2 separate regions of the Homo sapiens genome follow, and region 2 is linked to region 1. The links come from fine-mapping of genetic effects on gene expression. Tissue or cell type: thyroid. Region 1 holds a variant in brackets; the other region holds the start of a gene. All regions are shown on one strand. Distances are between the middles of the regions.

Region 1 (8,105 bases):
GAACCCTCCAGCCAGAGAAAAGGCAGAGATGCAGGAGAATTGTAATTGGAACTCTAATTCTGTTTAGATTTTTTCTGACCCTTTCTGCTGCTCCAGTCTGCTTTTCTTAGGCGTGTAAGCTTCCTTCTCTCACTGCAGACGTGCTTTCCTCACTCTGTGGATTTCCTAGGGCTGACGGAACAAAGTGCTACAAACTGAGTGGCTTAAACACTGGAAACGTATTGTCTCATAGTTCTGGAAGCTTAAAGTGTGAGATCAAGGTGTCAGCAGGACCGTGCTCCTCTGAAGGTGCCAGGGAAGAATCTGTCCTGGACTTTTCTTTCTGCTGTTTCTTTGGCTTGGGACAGCGTGAATCCCATCTTCACCTGGCATCTTCCCTGTGTGTATATCTGTCTCTGTGTCCTAATTTCCCCCCTCCCCCTTTTTTTTTTAGACAGAGTCTGGCTCTTGTTGCCCAGGCTGGAGTGCAATGGCACAATCTTTGCTCACTGCATCCTCTGCCTTCTAGGTTCAAGTGATTCTCCTGTCTCAGCCTCCCGAGTAGCTGAGATTACAGGCATGCGCCACCATGCCGGACTAATTTTTATATTTTCAGTAGAGGCAGGGTTTTGCCATGTTGGCCAGGCTGGTCTCCAACTTCAGACCTCAGATGATCCACCTGCCTCGGCCTCCCAAAGTGTTGGGATTACAGGCGTGAGCCATCCACCTGGCCAAGTTTCCCCTTTTTATAAGGACACTAGTCATATTAGATTAGGGCCTGCCCTAATGACCTCATTTTAACTTGATTGCCTCTATAAAGACCTTATCTCCAAATAAGGCCCCACTCTGCAGTACTGGGGGTTTGGACTCCAGCATATTTTCTTTTTTGAGGATACAATTCAACCCATAACACCCACATGGCCACCAACTGCTCTCAGTTTTTGCATCTTACCATTTGCACTACTAGATACTACATTCTTCCTTCACTTACTGATTTCAGAAATCCCAGGGAAGAATTCTAATTGGTTCATCTTTGATCAGGTTCTGGTCTCCTCAAGGGAAGAAACCGGGTCTGGAACGATGACTAACTCGGCGTTGTTAAGGTGCCCAGCCCTGAACCAATCAATGACAGCCAGTGAGGCAGGATTGTTTAAGACCATGACAATCGTCATGGGACCCATGAATCTGTCAGATCAGTCAGTCCATGCTGGGTACAAATCATCCTCTAAATCATAGAGAATTGATAGCAACAAGGAGTTCATCCTGTCTTACACTCCACATCTTCTATGGGCAATAGAGATGGTGAGAGGAGAGGGGTTTCTGCTTATTGTAGTCCCCAGGGACCCAGACTGACAAGCCATCCCAACTGTGCTGAAAGAGAGCTCTGGAGGGTCTTGTATTGGCAGTTAAATCTAACACCTGAAAGTGGTACACTTCTGCTCACAACTCACACCACAGTTAGTGACATGGCCCTATCAGGGTGGACATTCTCACAGTGTACCTGGAAAGTAGAGAGCCAGAAATAATTGACGCACAGCACCTATGACTGTCACAACCCACGTGGTGGGAGCAGTGGGAAAAAGGGTTCCCAGGAGAGGGGAGATGCTTCACCAGAATATGATGGGGTGCTGCCCAGGGAAACTAGTGGATAAGCACTACAGGGGCATCTGAGGCCAAAGGAAGAGCCATGGAAGACAGTGGGGTGTTAAAAACACTGTGGTTTAGCTGGAGCATACAAGGTCTGGGGTGAGAATGGCCAGGGACTGGGCTGGAAAGGTGGCCAGGCTGGACAGTGAAAAGAACTGCTTGCTATAGGGGAGAGTTTGGATTTCTTCTCCCCCAGTGACAATAGGGGAGCAATAAGGGCTTTGAGCCGGGAACAGGAGGGTCAGGTTTGCATTTTAGAAATAGCACTGACCTCTGAGCAGAGGCCCAGAGGTCTGGGACAACTCCAGTGGTTGAGAACTAGACTTAGTGTTAGTCCTGCACTTTTAAATCCCAGAATTTTTGATGATGTGCTTGAAGGGGTTAAAGGTGGACATTGCTTAAATAAAAGCAAGTTTCAGAAAATTGATAAAATTCTCCACAGATAGCATAAACTTCATCAGGCTGCTTTTTAGCACTTGTGGCTATTTGAGAACAGTTTTCTCCCCTGCCAGTGCTTCTTGTTAGGCCATTTTTACAGGCAGTTCTTGCATATCCTCTAAACACACGATCTTTCTCAGATGAGAGCCTGTTATTTTTTTTTTCTATATTTAATTTTATTTAAGTTCTGGGATACATGTGCAGGATGTGCAGGTTTGTTACACAGGTAGACGTGTGCCATGGCGGTGTGCTGCACCTGTCAACCCATCACCTAGTTATTAATCCCCACATGCATTAGCTATTTATCCTGATGCTCTCCCTCCCCAAACCCCCTGACAGGCCCCAATGTATGTTGTTTCCCTCCCTGCGTTCATGTGTTCTCATTGTTCAGCTCCCAATCTACCCATCTGACAAAGGCCTAATATCCAGAACCTACAAGGAACTTCAACAAATTTACAAGAAAAAAACAACCCTATCAAAAAGTGTGCAAAGGACATGAACAGACACTTCTAGAAGAAGACATTTATGCAGCCAGCAAATGTATAAAAAAAGCTCAACATCACTGATCATTAGAGAAATGCAAATCAAAATCCCAATGAGATACCATCTCACACCAGTCAGACGGCAGTTATTAAAATGTCAAGAACAACAGATTCTGGCAAGGCTGTGGAGAAATAGGAATGCTTTTACATTGTTGGTGGGAATGTAACTTGGTTCAACCATTGTGGAAGACAGTGTGGCAATTCTTCAAGGATCTAGAACAAGAAACACCATTTGACCCAACAAACCCATTACTGAGTATATACCCAAAGGAATATAAATCATTCTATTATAAAGATACATGCACACATATGTTTATTGCAGCACTATTCACAATAGCAAAGACACGGAACCAACCCAAATGCCCATCAATGATAGACTGGATGAAAAAAAATGTTGTACATATACACCATGGAATACTATGCAGCCATAAAAAAGGAACGAGATAATGTCCTTTTCAGGAACACGGATGGAGCTGGAAGCCATTATCCTCAGCAAACTAACACAGGAACAGAAAACCAAACGCTGCATGCTCTCACTTAAAAGTGGGAACTGTTATCTTTTCTCTTACACTGGTGCATCTGCCCCACCTGTTCCCCTTGACCCTCTCGCTGACAGATGTCCCTGCCATAGCACAGATCCTCAGTCATTTCAAACATAAGACTGAACATAAGGTTCAGATTTTCACAGCACACCTATGCCTATGAAGGATTCATGAGTTTGCCTTGAGTTTTCCATTGTGAACACTGAGAA[T/C]GTTGAGGACCACTCGTGTGTTCACAGACAAAGAACCACAAGAAAGAACACGGAGTGGAAACCAGGCCAGAAGAAGGCAAGCAGGCTCCTCTCAGCTTCCCTGCCCTGGCAGAGGCAAACACACACAGCCTCACCAGGGCATGTCCAGAGCTGGTTGGCTTGACCCACAGAGGACGTGTAAAAAAAGAAAAAAAACAACAAAACCTTTTCAAGTCTTCATGAATGAGGACTCTCAGTTCAAAATTCATAGGAAGATTACATAAAACCATCTGCTGCCTTTATTTCCCCTTGTGTGCATTAAAAATATGCAGCTGCTCACCGAGAAACATTCCATTACGCTGTGTGGCTCACGAGCTGCTCTTTGACGTTCAGGACAGAGAGGAGGCAAGGTGGGAGGAGAGGCAGGGGTGAGCACGCACAGGGATTTCCACTGGGCTCTGAGTGTCTAGAACAGGGCATTCCAGATTTTTCCACCTCACTGACGTGCTCTCTGAAGGAGATGCTCTTCTGTGTATGCAGTGAAGTTTCTCGGTGAGTTTGTGTGTGGGTGTGGATGTTTTTTTTTCCCCCTTTTTAATGTGAAAATTGGTCTTTGAGTCCACAAGCAGCAGCTGCAGCTGCCATAATTAAAGTGAAATAACCTGCTTCATCCAGTCCTTAGAAAGGCTTAAAAAAAATCCATATTCTAAATGGACTCAGGAATGTGGTGGATCTTCTCTCCCTGTTTATTTGCAACAAGTTTTATTTCTTTACTTTTCTCAGGAGTCAGGAGAAGGGTATTAACCTTTACTGAGCATTTATCCTGATCCCAGGCACTATGCTGGCTTGTCCCAACTGCACAGCCAGGATTTGAATCCAATTTTGATGCTTCGTTTCTTCCCCCGCTGCCATGCCCCTTCAGGATGCCTTTGAACTCTGGATCTCTCCACCTGGTCTGATTCTGTCCAGAGGCCTGGGAGGATTGGCATTATTAAGATGTTATTGAAAATGCTGGCACATATAATCGGCTTGGATTAGAAACCAAAGCTCTTCGCAGAGTAACAAGGTGAAGTATTTTGTGCTAATAATTTACGTGATAATGAGATGGTTTTCAGAAGATTGGATGTGCTCCTAAAGGTGTTGCTTAAAGTCACTCTTCAAACCAGGCTGGGAGCATAAAAATCCCAGAAGAACTACAGACTCTGTAGTTTGTACAGATCTCAAAATAAGGTAGCTGAGGTAGAAAGAACTATGTGCTGAGAATTGAAGACATAGTGGTCACTGTCTTCAAGGAGCTCCCAGTCTGGTGGAAAAGAAAGTTGTAAAGATGAATAATTATAAGACACTGGACATAAGAGCTAGCTGAAGGACAGGAATAGCTTGCTGTAGTTTCAGCATTTTTTCTCTAAAGATTCATTCCTTCAATTGGTAAATTTGTGAGGAGGAAAGCTACCTCCCTGAGAAAGCAATGCCCATGATGTTGAACATTTAAGACTAGAAGAAATTATTCTACATTATTATGTATATACTAAGGGTCAGGTACTTATTCTCTCTAGTCCATTATTTTTATTCCTATTTAATAATAAAGAAATGTAAAAAGCTAAGTGGTTTGGCCAACGCTGCACAGCTGGTGACTGGGTGAGTTGTGATTCAGCCCCACTCTGCTTCCAAAGCTCCACCTCTTGCCACTGTGCCAGGCTTCCCCTCAGCAAACTGGAACCCTTGATTGTCAAGTACAGAACACACCTATCACTGTGTCCCATGTTTAGAATGAGGATATCTTTTTATTTTCCTTAAACAAAGTTTTAATAGCAGGCGTCTTGATGGAAGGTCATCTCCTCCAGGCTGCAGGTGCGATGATACAGTTCTGAGTGCATTAGGAGCCCTCTGGGCTGCCTTCCCTAAACAGGGGGTCAGCCCAGGGCACAGGAACGCTGAGTTTCTCACTGACATTCTTCAGGGACCCAGCAGGTTCCTGGGTATCCAGAAGATTTTCTCCCGGGTTTCTGTATCCACTGCTCCGGGTACCACGGCTTAGCCGAGAAGGGAAAGACAAAAACTAACACTCCTTGCCAGAGAGGAGGGTGGTTTCCTGCTACCTTTGCAGTTCTCTGCAGTCAGTGTTGTTGTTTTGGAACCTGACTTAACTCAAGGCATCATCTTATCTCCTTGATCTGTGGTCAGTTTGGGGGAAATCCAACAGAAGCAGAGGCACTCTGCATTTAATTCCACCTGGGCCTTCCTGAAAGGCAGCCCAGGAAATGATCAAGCTCCACATACCGGTGGACAGCCAGGAGATGCACTGGGAGAAGAAAGACGGTTGTGTCAGGTACATGGTGTCATGCACAGGGTTACAGCTTGCTTTATGACTTGCCTAGAGAGGAAAAGAACAGGGTTTGGATCTTGTCTCCCTTGCTTCCTCACTAGGGGATTTGGAGCAAGCAGCTTAGATTCCCCAGAGTCTCCTTTCTTCACCTGCAAGTCTGGAAGGATAATGCTTGCCTCCTGCAGTTATTTAGAAGGCTAAATAACATCAAAGCACCTAATAGCCTGCCCAATGCCTGGCACACAATTAGGAGCTCCCTGCCCCCAGGCAACTCCACTTCCAATTCATATTGTGCAAGGCTTGCCACATTCATCTTCCTAGAGCAGATCTCCAATTATGTCACATCTCTGCTCTGCTCAACAGCACTCAGAGGCTCCCTATTACTCACTGAACAATGACCACATTCCCCAGCCTGTTGAGGCCCACATCTCTTGTTGGGTGTGATGTCCTCCACTTCCCTCTGCACAGCTTACACATGCTGGAAAGCTGAGCTCGACACTTGCTCTTTGTCATGCTTTTACCTCCCATGCCTCTCCTCCCTTATGTGGAGTACCTGCCCTGTCTCCATGTCCCCTACCTTATACAAAGTCTGCTGCAAGGCAGTCTTCCATGATTTGTCAGCCATGGCGATCTCTCCATCCTCTGTCCACACATTAGGTTCTGTCTGCATCTCTCTTACAAAACTGCCAAACATTATAGTTCTCCGTGGCTATGTCTTGTTTTTCTTGCCAGCCTATGAGCTTCCCAAAAGCAGGATTTGCTTCTGAATCATTATTGTATTCTATCCAGCAACAATCCTCAGTATATGAATGAATGAGTGAATATGTGAATGAATGAATAATGCCATAATCCCTTCCTAACTCAATTTCCCCTCAACGGAATGCTAGCATATAAATACTTTTAAAAACTTTCCAGCAACAAATGAGCATTTTAGTTTCATTAACTGTCTTTGTTTTGTCTACTGGAGGTACTCTGGGAAAAAAAGGGAATTTAGGGATGGGATTTGAAAAGGAAATAAACAGATTGAAAGATTGAAGACAAACAGTTGAGGTTTTCCCTGAAGCCTTGGCAAGGATGAGGGCAGAAGAGGAGTAAAAACTGTAGCTCTGCAGCTTCTTCAAGAGGGGAGGGACCATAAGGCACAGGTGAGAAGCCAAGTCACAAGCTTTGGCCTGAAGCTGTGAGGGGAAGGGAGAGATGATGGAGTTTTATAACCCAGACACAAAAAAGGGAGCCTGAGAAAGAAATTTGAGTGTTTCATCCAAGCATAAAACGTACATATCACTTACATGACTAGGACCCCAGCAGGACCCTTGGGGACAAAGCTAACAGCTCTGTGTCCTAAAAGCCACCAGACATTTGGCATTTGGGGAGAGCCCCAACACCAGAGAAAGTACCTTTTCCCTTGCCCATTTTTGTAGCCAAGGCAGCCAATTTCCTGCTGTCTTTGGAACTTGGGGTGGGGTTGTGTGTGTCGGGGGTGGGTGGGCAGGGGGTAAACTTCTAATGAACAAGGCAGGGTAATAAAAATTAAAGATGTAATAGCCATTATTGCCTATTTGAAATGCATAAAATGATAGTCATATCCTAATTAGTGTACTGCCTATTTTTAATCTTAATGAATATAATGATTTATAAGGATTTTTCTAGGTTTACTCCCAAACTCTTGTTAACTTTACTTGTGCCCATTAATTTTCCTACCCTGGCCAGGCATGGTGGCTCACACCTGTAATCCCAGCACTTTGGGAGGCTGAGGCAGGTGGATCACCTGAAGTCAGGAGTCCAAGACCAGCCTGGCCAACATGGCGAAACCCCATCTAAATACAAAAATTAGCCAGCCGTGGTGGTGGGCACCTGTAATCCCAGCTACTCAGGAGGCTGTGGCTGGAGAATCACTTGAACCTGGGAGGCGGAGGTTGCAGTGAGCTGAGATCATGCCACTGCACTCCAGCCTGGGCCACAAGAGCAAAATCCTCATCTCAAAAAAAAAAAAAATTCTACCCTGAAGGTAGTTCAAGAGCCAGTCTCTGGAGAGTACCAACAGGATACTCTGTACTTGGCCAGAGGCTGCTGAATGTTCCTGCCTAATAGAGTTACTCTTTATTTAAAATAATTTGCCATAAAGAAACATAGTAAATGTAGATGAAGACAACAAAATTTTACTATTAAGTGGATTTTGTTTTTCATGGGAATTCCCAGCAATTCCTCACCTTATAATAAACAGCAATGTTTTTTAAGCTAGGATCCTAGATCTATTTGGGAAAAATGAATTCAGGGAACTTCTCAAATAATGGCTTTTTGGGGGTTAACCTCCTATGCCTAAGTGTATCCTTCATGCCTTATTCTTTAGCCTAGTAGGTCTCTTGTATAATAAGGCATTTTGTAGTATTTTTTATGGGTGAGTGTGGCAGTATGGGGCAGGAAAAGTACAGGGACCTTGAGT
Region 2 (8,093 bases), 220 kb before region 1:
ACAAACCTCACAGAAAGACAGCTCACAGATTAAATGGAGTCAGTCAGACAGAAAATCACCACCAGCCTCACCTCTTGGCTTTTAAAAATGGGGCTATGCTGGGAAAGGCAAGTGGCTTGGGAGTTCTGGAGAGCTGGATTCTGATTCTGATTCGGCTGAGCCAGAACCTCACAAGCCTCAGTGTGTTCACTCTCCCCCTCTAGTTATCACAATTCTATGTGATAACACACCGTGGAAGCTCCAGGGCCACACAGAAGGCTCTTCAAGAATGTCTCTTATTCCTTCTTTTAGTTCTAGCCCCTGCTCTGCCTCTTTGTTTGAACCTCTCTGGGTCCCTCTTCCTCTTGGTGCACACTGGAAGTAGGATTCCAGCAGGCGTGGGTACAAGGATTGAGTCAATCAACAGATGCGGAGGCCCTTTGAAAAGGTGAAAGGGCTATGCTGTGTAAGGTGTTATTATTATTAGGTTGGGGAAATTACCCACAGGGTAAATATTTCTGTGAGACGAAAATCAGAGATGCAGATGTAACCTCACCAGGGAACTATTTACAGCAACTTTTCCAAAGACTGAGACTATCCTCTGGCAGGCACTTTTCTCACCCTCTAATTATGGAAGTTTGATGGCATTTATCAGTAGGTGTCCAAATCCTAAGTAACCAACTTGCATATTTGATGTGGTGTCAGACAACAGGCATGAGGCATTGCCTCTTGCTCCTCAGTGTCTTCTTGCTTTGAAGTACTTACTCCCTGAAACAATTTTATAGTAACAGCTGGACTCTGAAGGGAAGGATTTTTTTTTTGCAAATAAATACATTTGCTAATTAAAACTTGCCCTTTAAAGACTCACATTTTCTTGACCCCACTATATGTTTTCTTTTGCTTGTAACATATCACAGAATCAATAAGGGCAATGCAAACATCTTTAATATATACAGTTTCAACAGCTCTCATAATGTATCTGCCTCCATAAGAATGCCCTCTCCCCCTCTCTAGCCCAGCTACTAATTTCCCCTGATTTGTTAAATGCCTCCTTATTTCACTCTCAGAGATAAAACTCAAAACGCAGTTACTCTTCAGGGGGAGTGGGAACGGTGGATTGAAAAGGGATAAAGTCAGGGGAGGGGGAATGATCATAGCCATGTCTTTGTGTTTTTTTAATGGCAGCTTTAAAAAGTTTTTATAATGGAATAATGAATGTTTATAGTAGGAAGATTATAAAATGCCAGAAAAAGTATAAAGAAGAAAATATATATTACTCATAACCCCATCACCCAGAAGAAAACACGGTTAATATTTGGCATTTTTTTCTTCAGACTTTTCTGCAAGAGGGTTTTTATGTAGCTAACAATTTTGAATTCTCTTTTAAAATATTATATATGACAATACTAACTTTTTTATGGCACGAAAAACTGCAAAAACACTTTCGAGTAGCTGCATAATATTCCAACAAAGGCTGTCCTCCAGTTTACTTATTTTATTTGACCATTTAGGCTGCTTCAATTTTTTTCCCATTATTACAAATAATGTACTGTCATTATATCCAATCTCCTGTTTTTCTGGGCAATACGTAGAGCTGGCTGTTTGGAGGTCTTAGGCTGAATTTTACAACTAGTGTTTCCTATGGCACAGAGCAGCCATATAGGAGAATCTCCGGTTAGCTATAGAGTTAGATTATAACATGGTAGCAACTGACCTTTTTTCCCCCCTCTAAAATGCTCCCTGAATTCTACTTCCTCCTGAATACTCTTGACATCGCAATGAGTAGTACCACCTTCTATTGAGATACCCAAGCTTGAAAACTGAGTGTCACTTTGGGCTTCTCCTTGCTACCCCCATCCAATCAGAAATCAAAATCATCCTCAATCTCTCTCAAATCTCTCCTCCCTTTTCTGGCTTCATTGCAACTGCCTTAGTTTCCCTAAATGACCTACTTTTTCCTGCCTCTACTCTTCCTAAGTCACCCCAGTTAATCCATTTCTCTACACTGCTGCCAAATCATCTTTTGAAAACACACTCAAGATCACATCCTTCCTCTTCTTAAAAGCCTTTATTAACTGTCTACCCTCCTTCTGCCCCAGTACCTGAACTTTCAGGATGTTTGGATCCTTAGCCTCCTTCAGGCCCTGTCAAAATCCAATCCTAGATGCTAGGGACTCATCTAGACTCCTCCAAGACCCTCCCCCAATATGTCCAACTCTGCTATGAGTGTCTCATGCTTTTGTCCATGTCATCATACTATTGCCTGTACCTAAAAAGCATCTCCCCTCCTTTCACGGTCTAGCTAATTCCTTGCCTTCAAAACTCAGCTCAAGGCCAGGTATGGTAGCTCACACCTATAATCCCAGCACTCTGGGAAGCCTAGGGCAGAGGATTGATGGTATTTGAGACCAGCCTGGGCAACATAGTGAGACCTCATCTGTAAAACAAACAAACAAACAAATAAAATTAGTTTGGCGTGGTGTGGTGGCACATGCCTGTGGTCCCAGCTACTCAAGAGGCTGAGGTGGGAGGATCACCTGAGCTCAGGAGGTTGAGGCTTCAGTGAACCAAGATGGCACCACTGCACTCCAGCCTGGATGACAGAGTGAGAACCTGTCATCTCCTATGGGAAGTCTTCCCTTACTCCCAACAATTCCATTGGGCATCCCTCATGATTAGATTCAGGTTATTCATGTCTACCAGGAATATCACAGAAGTGATATGTCCTTCCCAGTGCACTATATCAGGGGCCACTTGATGTCTATTTGTCACATTCCTGCTAATACTGATTTTAATCACTCAAGGTGGAGTCTTTCAGGTTTTCTATTGAAAAGTTACTATTTTCCCCTTTGAAATTAATCAGTATCATGTGGGCAGATACTTTGAACCTATATATATTTTTTGTTTCTCAACATACTTTCACCCACTACTTTTAGCATCTGGGTCTCATTTTTCTCACTGGTCAAATGAAATGCATAGACTGAAAGTGATTTGCAAAATTATCACTCTCAAAGATCCCTTTCTTATACTCCCTGTCTTGGATCTTCTGTAATGAAAGAATTTGTCCACCAAACCAATGTTACTCCTTCAGGTACATGTGTCTCATTTTCTCAGTGTACATTCATGAAACATGCCTACTGAACTGTAAGCTCAGAAAACAGGGCCTGTTTGTCTCACCACTGAATGCCGAGACCTATCACAGCACCTGCCACAAAGTAGGTGGTCAAGAAATATTTGTTGAAGGACTAAATCTAACTGCCAATCACAGCTGATGCCCAGCATTTGATGTCTGCAGTGAGGACACAAAGTTGATAAATGCTATTCAAAGGCAGAGACTTGACATTTTAGTTAATCTCAGAGGCTTTGTCACTGGTCACTGTACACTTATCATAAAGATTTTAAAAATAGATTGGACAGATTGTGTGGAAACTTCCCACCCACCCCAACCCATCCCTGCCTTTCTGAGATGCCCTAGTTATGAGATGTTGAAGGGGCATTCCAGCACCCCACGTTTATAATCTGTGATGCCTTTATAATCAGCATATGGCAACTGGCTAGACAGTCTCCTCACCACACAGAAGAGTTTTCAAAATAGCCTACCCCTCCTTTCACATTTATGTGAAATTAGCATTGTCACATTTCCTCCTTCATTGACTACTTTAGATCAGAGAGACACACTGTAGCAGAAGATCATGAAGGAAGTTGTCTTAAAGAAGGAAACTAACATAAATTAAGCATCTCATATACACCCAGTGCTTTCTTTCCATTGTTCTCTCTTTTAATCCTCACCAAAACTGGTGAAGTCGGTATCATCCATTTTATAGATGAGAAAACTGAAGCCGGGTAAGGGGAAATGGCTCGCACTAAGTCCTTTAGCCAGCAGGCAGCAGGGCTGGAGTGGGAATTCCTCCAGTCTCTTCCCCAAAGCCCTTCCAAGTTGCCACTCAGTCAAACTACCGCTCTCATCACATAAAAATGCCCTTCTCTTGGAAATGTGCTTGCCATCACGATCCAAACATTCGAGGGACAGAAATCTCTTGGACCGCAATCACTGCTATTTTTTAAGTGATTGTTATCACGACTCAGTAGCTGTTACCATGGTTTTGGGGAAGTTGTCCGAGGAAGGAGGGCCTTTCTTTGGGCATCTTGCATGCCTGAAGAAGGAACTCAAGATCTCAGCTCTTAATTACTCTGATTGTGCTGCAGTAGCAACTTGAAAGAGACCGTCCCTAGAAAAGTGTTGGGGTGGGGGGTGTGGAGTAACATCCAGCGAGCAGGCAGAAGGGAGGCCCTGGGCGCCAGAGAGACCCAGGGAAAGGCGAAGAGGAGGGAGAGGGGACGAGACCGTGCTACGGGGAGCCTGGAGAGAAAGCCAAAGGAGGAGGAAAGAACAAAAGGCAAGAGGAGAGGAAGTACAAGAAAGTCCAGAAAGGAAAAGAGAAAGTTTCAGAAAGGGGAAGAGAAAGCAAGCAAGGAGGGTAAAAGAAGAAAGAGACCAGAAAGATACCGAACTGAGAGAGCTCGGAGAACTCGAGAAAGCAAAGGAGGTAAAAGGAGAGAAGATGGAGAAGGCGGCGGAGAGGAAGGGGGAAGGAGACAGAGGAACCGAGACTGGGGTGAGGGAGCGGCCGCGCGTGGCCCCCGGAGAGGCGCCCATCACCTGCGTGGCGCCCCCCCGCGCCGGAGTGCGGCCCTGCTCCCAGCGCCAGTGCGCCGCGCGGCTCGCCGGCCTCGTAGGATTGGCTACCGCCTCCCATTCATGTAACCTGCGTGTGCGTGTGCGTGTGTGTGTGTGTCTCTCTCTCGCTCGCCCTCTCTTTCTGTGTGTAAGAGAGCGAGGGTGGGGGACGGAGGCAGGCAGGCGAGCAGGCAGGGAGGGGAAGAAGAGAAGGGAAGCTATTAAACACACACACACACACACACACTCACACACGCGCGCGCACACACCCGCCCCAACCCCCCAGAAGCCTCGGGATTGCAGCTGTTTCATGTGGGGCAGCAGTGCTGGCAGGGACGCCGGCCGGGAGCGGCCGGGAGCGGGAGCCGGTCGTGCGCGCGCGGCTGGAGGCTCGCTGGGGCTCCGCTCCCCGCGGGAGCTATTGTTGGTCTCGCTGGAGCTGAGCGCAGAGCCCGGACCTGCTCCTTCCTGGGCGCCCCGCTACGGCTCGCGGAGCAGAGGAGCCGCGCCGCCGAGAGAGAGAGGAGCCACCGGCGCGGCGCCTTGCCTCCCTGCCGCCGTCCTCGCCGCTTCCCCGGCGGTAGCAGCCTGCAGCCACGGTAAGGCGGCGTGATCCGCTCTACGGAAAAGCGCCTTGGGGACCGCGGCGACGCCTCGCCAGCTCCATCGCCCTCTGCACTGCTGGCCCGGGCAGGGTTCGGGTAGCTCACGCGGCTGCCGAGGGCTCCGGGAGATGTTTGCTTGCTCCCCTGGCCCAGGAGGAGGGAGGCTAGGGCGCGGGTGGCCGAAGAGGCAAGCTGTTCTGGAGCCTGGAGCCGCCGCAGCCCCCGGAGCCCGCCGCGGACTGGAGCCTGGGAGCAAGGGTTGGGGGAGGGCAGGGAGGTGGGAAGCGGGTGGGAGGGAGGCGGCGCGCCCCAGGTTCGTCTGCCTCTCCCGGATCCCGTTCCCCGCCCCGGCCCGGTCGCCTGCAGCCCCTCTGCAGACTAGCTCGCCCCAGGCCCCCGTCGGGCGCTGGAGGAGCCCGCGAGGCGGCGCCGGGCTTCAGCGGCTGCAGCCTGCCCTGCGGGGCAAGTGCCGGCTGCAGCAGCCCCGCACGGGCGGTGGTTGGAGCTCAGATCCTGGAGATGCGACCCCAGCTCCTCGCCCTCTGCAACCCGCGGGGCGCCCGCCTCTCCTCACCGGGCGCCCGGCCGCGGTATTGATGTTCGTCTAGGAGCCAACTGAGGCTGCAGCCGCCAGATGGACGCTTGGAGGGCTCCCGGGTGTGAGTGTGACTGTATGACTACTCTCACCCCCAGCTTCGGGAAATGTGCTCTGGGTTGAAATGTGATCACCGAGCTCCTCAGTCATTTTAATTGCCATTTTTAAATGCGGTCGTTACATTGGAGGAGCAGACTGGAAGGTAGTGGGGCGGCGTGTGTGTGTGTGTGTGTGTGTGTGTGTGGACACACACACGCAACCGAGGAATACACAACCAACTACTTGGGTGAAGGGCGGGGGGTTCACCTAGTGAGTCCTTCTTGGCGGGGGGGTCGGGCGAGTTAGCTGCCCGCTGCCCGCCCCTTCTCTGCCTGCCCCCGCCTAGGCGAGGTTGGAAAGTACTGGAAATTCAGCTGCGTGGTCCTTAACTTTGGAAATTGGCTCCGCTTTCAGGGCAAAATGTTAAGGCGATTTATGCACCCGCGTCCATGTGGATGAGTGTATTACTGCTCAGTTGGGTGCAGAGCCCTCAACAGTACCGCGCCAAGCCCCCACCCGATCTCTAACTCCCTCCCACCCCCTAACCGTGGAGAGAGGGTTTATAGAAATGCAGTTATCTGTAAACCATCGACGCAGTGAAAGGGGCGCAGGGAGGCAGCCAGAGTTTTGCCTGAACCTGCATACTGGCTTGGTGTTTGTAGCACACGAGATCACCCCGCTGCTTTGTAGAAGGCGGTGGTGGGGCAAGCTCGGGATTCCAATCGCCGGGGTGGGGGGTGGGGGGAAGAGGGTGCCCATGTACTGAGCTCTGAGGCCGAGTAAGGAGAGAGATCTGCTGAGCGGCATCGCGGGCAATTACATAAGCTGCCTCGGTGATTACCCGGAACTGTGATGCGAGCTCCCGGTTCTCGAAAGACAAGCCTGAAAGTTTGCCTGCTTGGGGAGTGTAAGTACCGGGGCGCCCCCACCCCGGCCTGGGTAGCTAGGATACGCCTCGCACCACGGCGCCCACTTGTGCGATGGGCGTCGGGTGCTGATGCTGCTGTCCCCAAAGAACCGGTTACCGAGGCAGGGACTAAGTGGGGGCATCCGGAATTGATCGCAGAGGAGGAGTCAGTCAGAACTGAGGTTTCATTGGGTCTTCAGAGCTCCAAGTCTTCCCTCGGAGGTGTTGGAAGGCCTTCCAGGGAACGCCGTTTTCAGAAACTGACTTGGTGTCCTGGGGAGCCCCAAAGCCCCTCTTTTCCGCCCTTCCTGGGCGCCCCTCCTTGTCTTTCAAGCCCTGTGCCCTTCACGTGTTTAGAAACCTGCCCGCGGTGCCTGGTCCCCCTTGGAGATGCCCAGGCAGCCCAGCCATCCAGGCCCACGCTGGCGAGGGGTTAGAGGGAGTAGAACGCTGGCTCTGCCGGGCTGCCACCCTTACCTACACCTATTCCTGGTTTCCTGCGCTAGCCCGGCGCTGATGGGGACGGGATGGGGCTGGGGTCGGGTATGGCTTCCGTTCCTTCGCCTCTCGCCTCTGCAGACAGCAGTTTGCTTCTGTTGCGTTTATTCTCCCCGTTTCGCCGCTTCCCTCCAGCGCCGCAGCCTGTGTATCACGTTGATGGGCTTTGATAGAGAAACCACAGTAAGAGTATGCTTTTAAATCTTGATTTTCGTCTGTAGGGGGATAAGCCACCCCAGCCCTGACACAGCCGTGGGGAACGCTGAAGTCTGGGACACATTGGCCCTGAACTCCCTTCCCCCCAGCCCGCAGTCAGGAGATGGTGATGTGCATGGGTGGGGAGTGTTTTGTTTTTGCCACATTCCAGCGTCCTGAAACCTCTCGTCCCCTCCCACTGAAATCCCCGATCTGTCTGAATCTGTTCCTTGCTGTAAAATAAATCCTCCCTCCCGCAGACCTGTGGGGCCCTTCGGATTTCCTGCCGCTGCCATGATCCTTAACAATGCGATTGAAAAGCCAGTGCTCGGCTGGAAAAAAATCCCCAGGTGCCAGCCGGCCGCGCCTTGACCTTGCTGAAGGAGCCTTTAACCCGGCTGCCAGAGGGGCTCTGGTCCAGCCGTGGGAATCCAGGAAGAAGGAGGGCGCCCCGGAGGCGGCTGGGTTAGCTCCCCGGGCAGGGCGGGAATCAGGTCGCGGCGGGGACCGCAGAGGGGGAGGGGACGGGACTCCGCGGCAACCTGTTTCCCGGCGAGCCGGGCCCGCGCATCCCAGCTCCCTCGCCCCAGCCCCTCG

Direction of the effects. Alleles are on the strand shown, and positions count from the first base shown. SD is a standard deviation of normalised expression in the study named.
In carriers of allele C in region 1, the expression in thyroid of the gene that starts at base 4,735 in region 2 tends to be lower than with T alone (moderate effect, 0.52 SD a copy in GTEx).

Evidence for each region. PIP is the estimated chance that this variant, and not a neighbour inherited with it, causes the effect.
Region 2: TENM4 starts here. The variant in region 1 is fine-mapped to the expression of TENM4 in thyroid (GTEx, PIP above 0.99).

What each region holds. Positions count from the first base shown.
Region 1 is chr11:79,217,277-79,225,381 of GRCh38, reverse strand. The region is part of intron 2 of TENM4 (teneurin transmembrane protein 4); the gene reads left to right. Among named protein-coding and RNA genes, the nearest start is that of TENM4-AS1, 130 kb to the right of the region's middle. The variant T/C (reference allele first, on the strand shown) is at 3,358.
Region 2 is chr11:79,437,672-79,445,764 of GRCh38, reverse strand. It overlaps TENM4 (teneurin transmembrane protein 4), which reads left to right and starts at 4,735. Exons shown (of 34, transcript NM_001098816.3): 1 at 4,735-5,256. RefSeq lists silencers at 4,607-4,776, 5,037-5,146.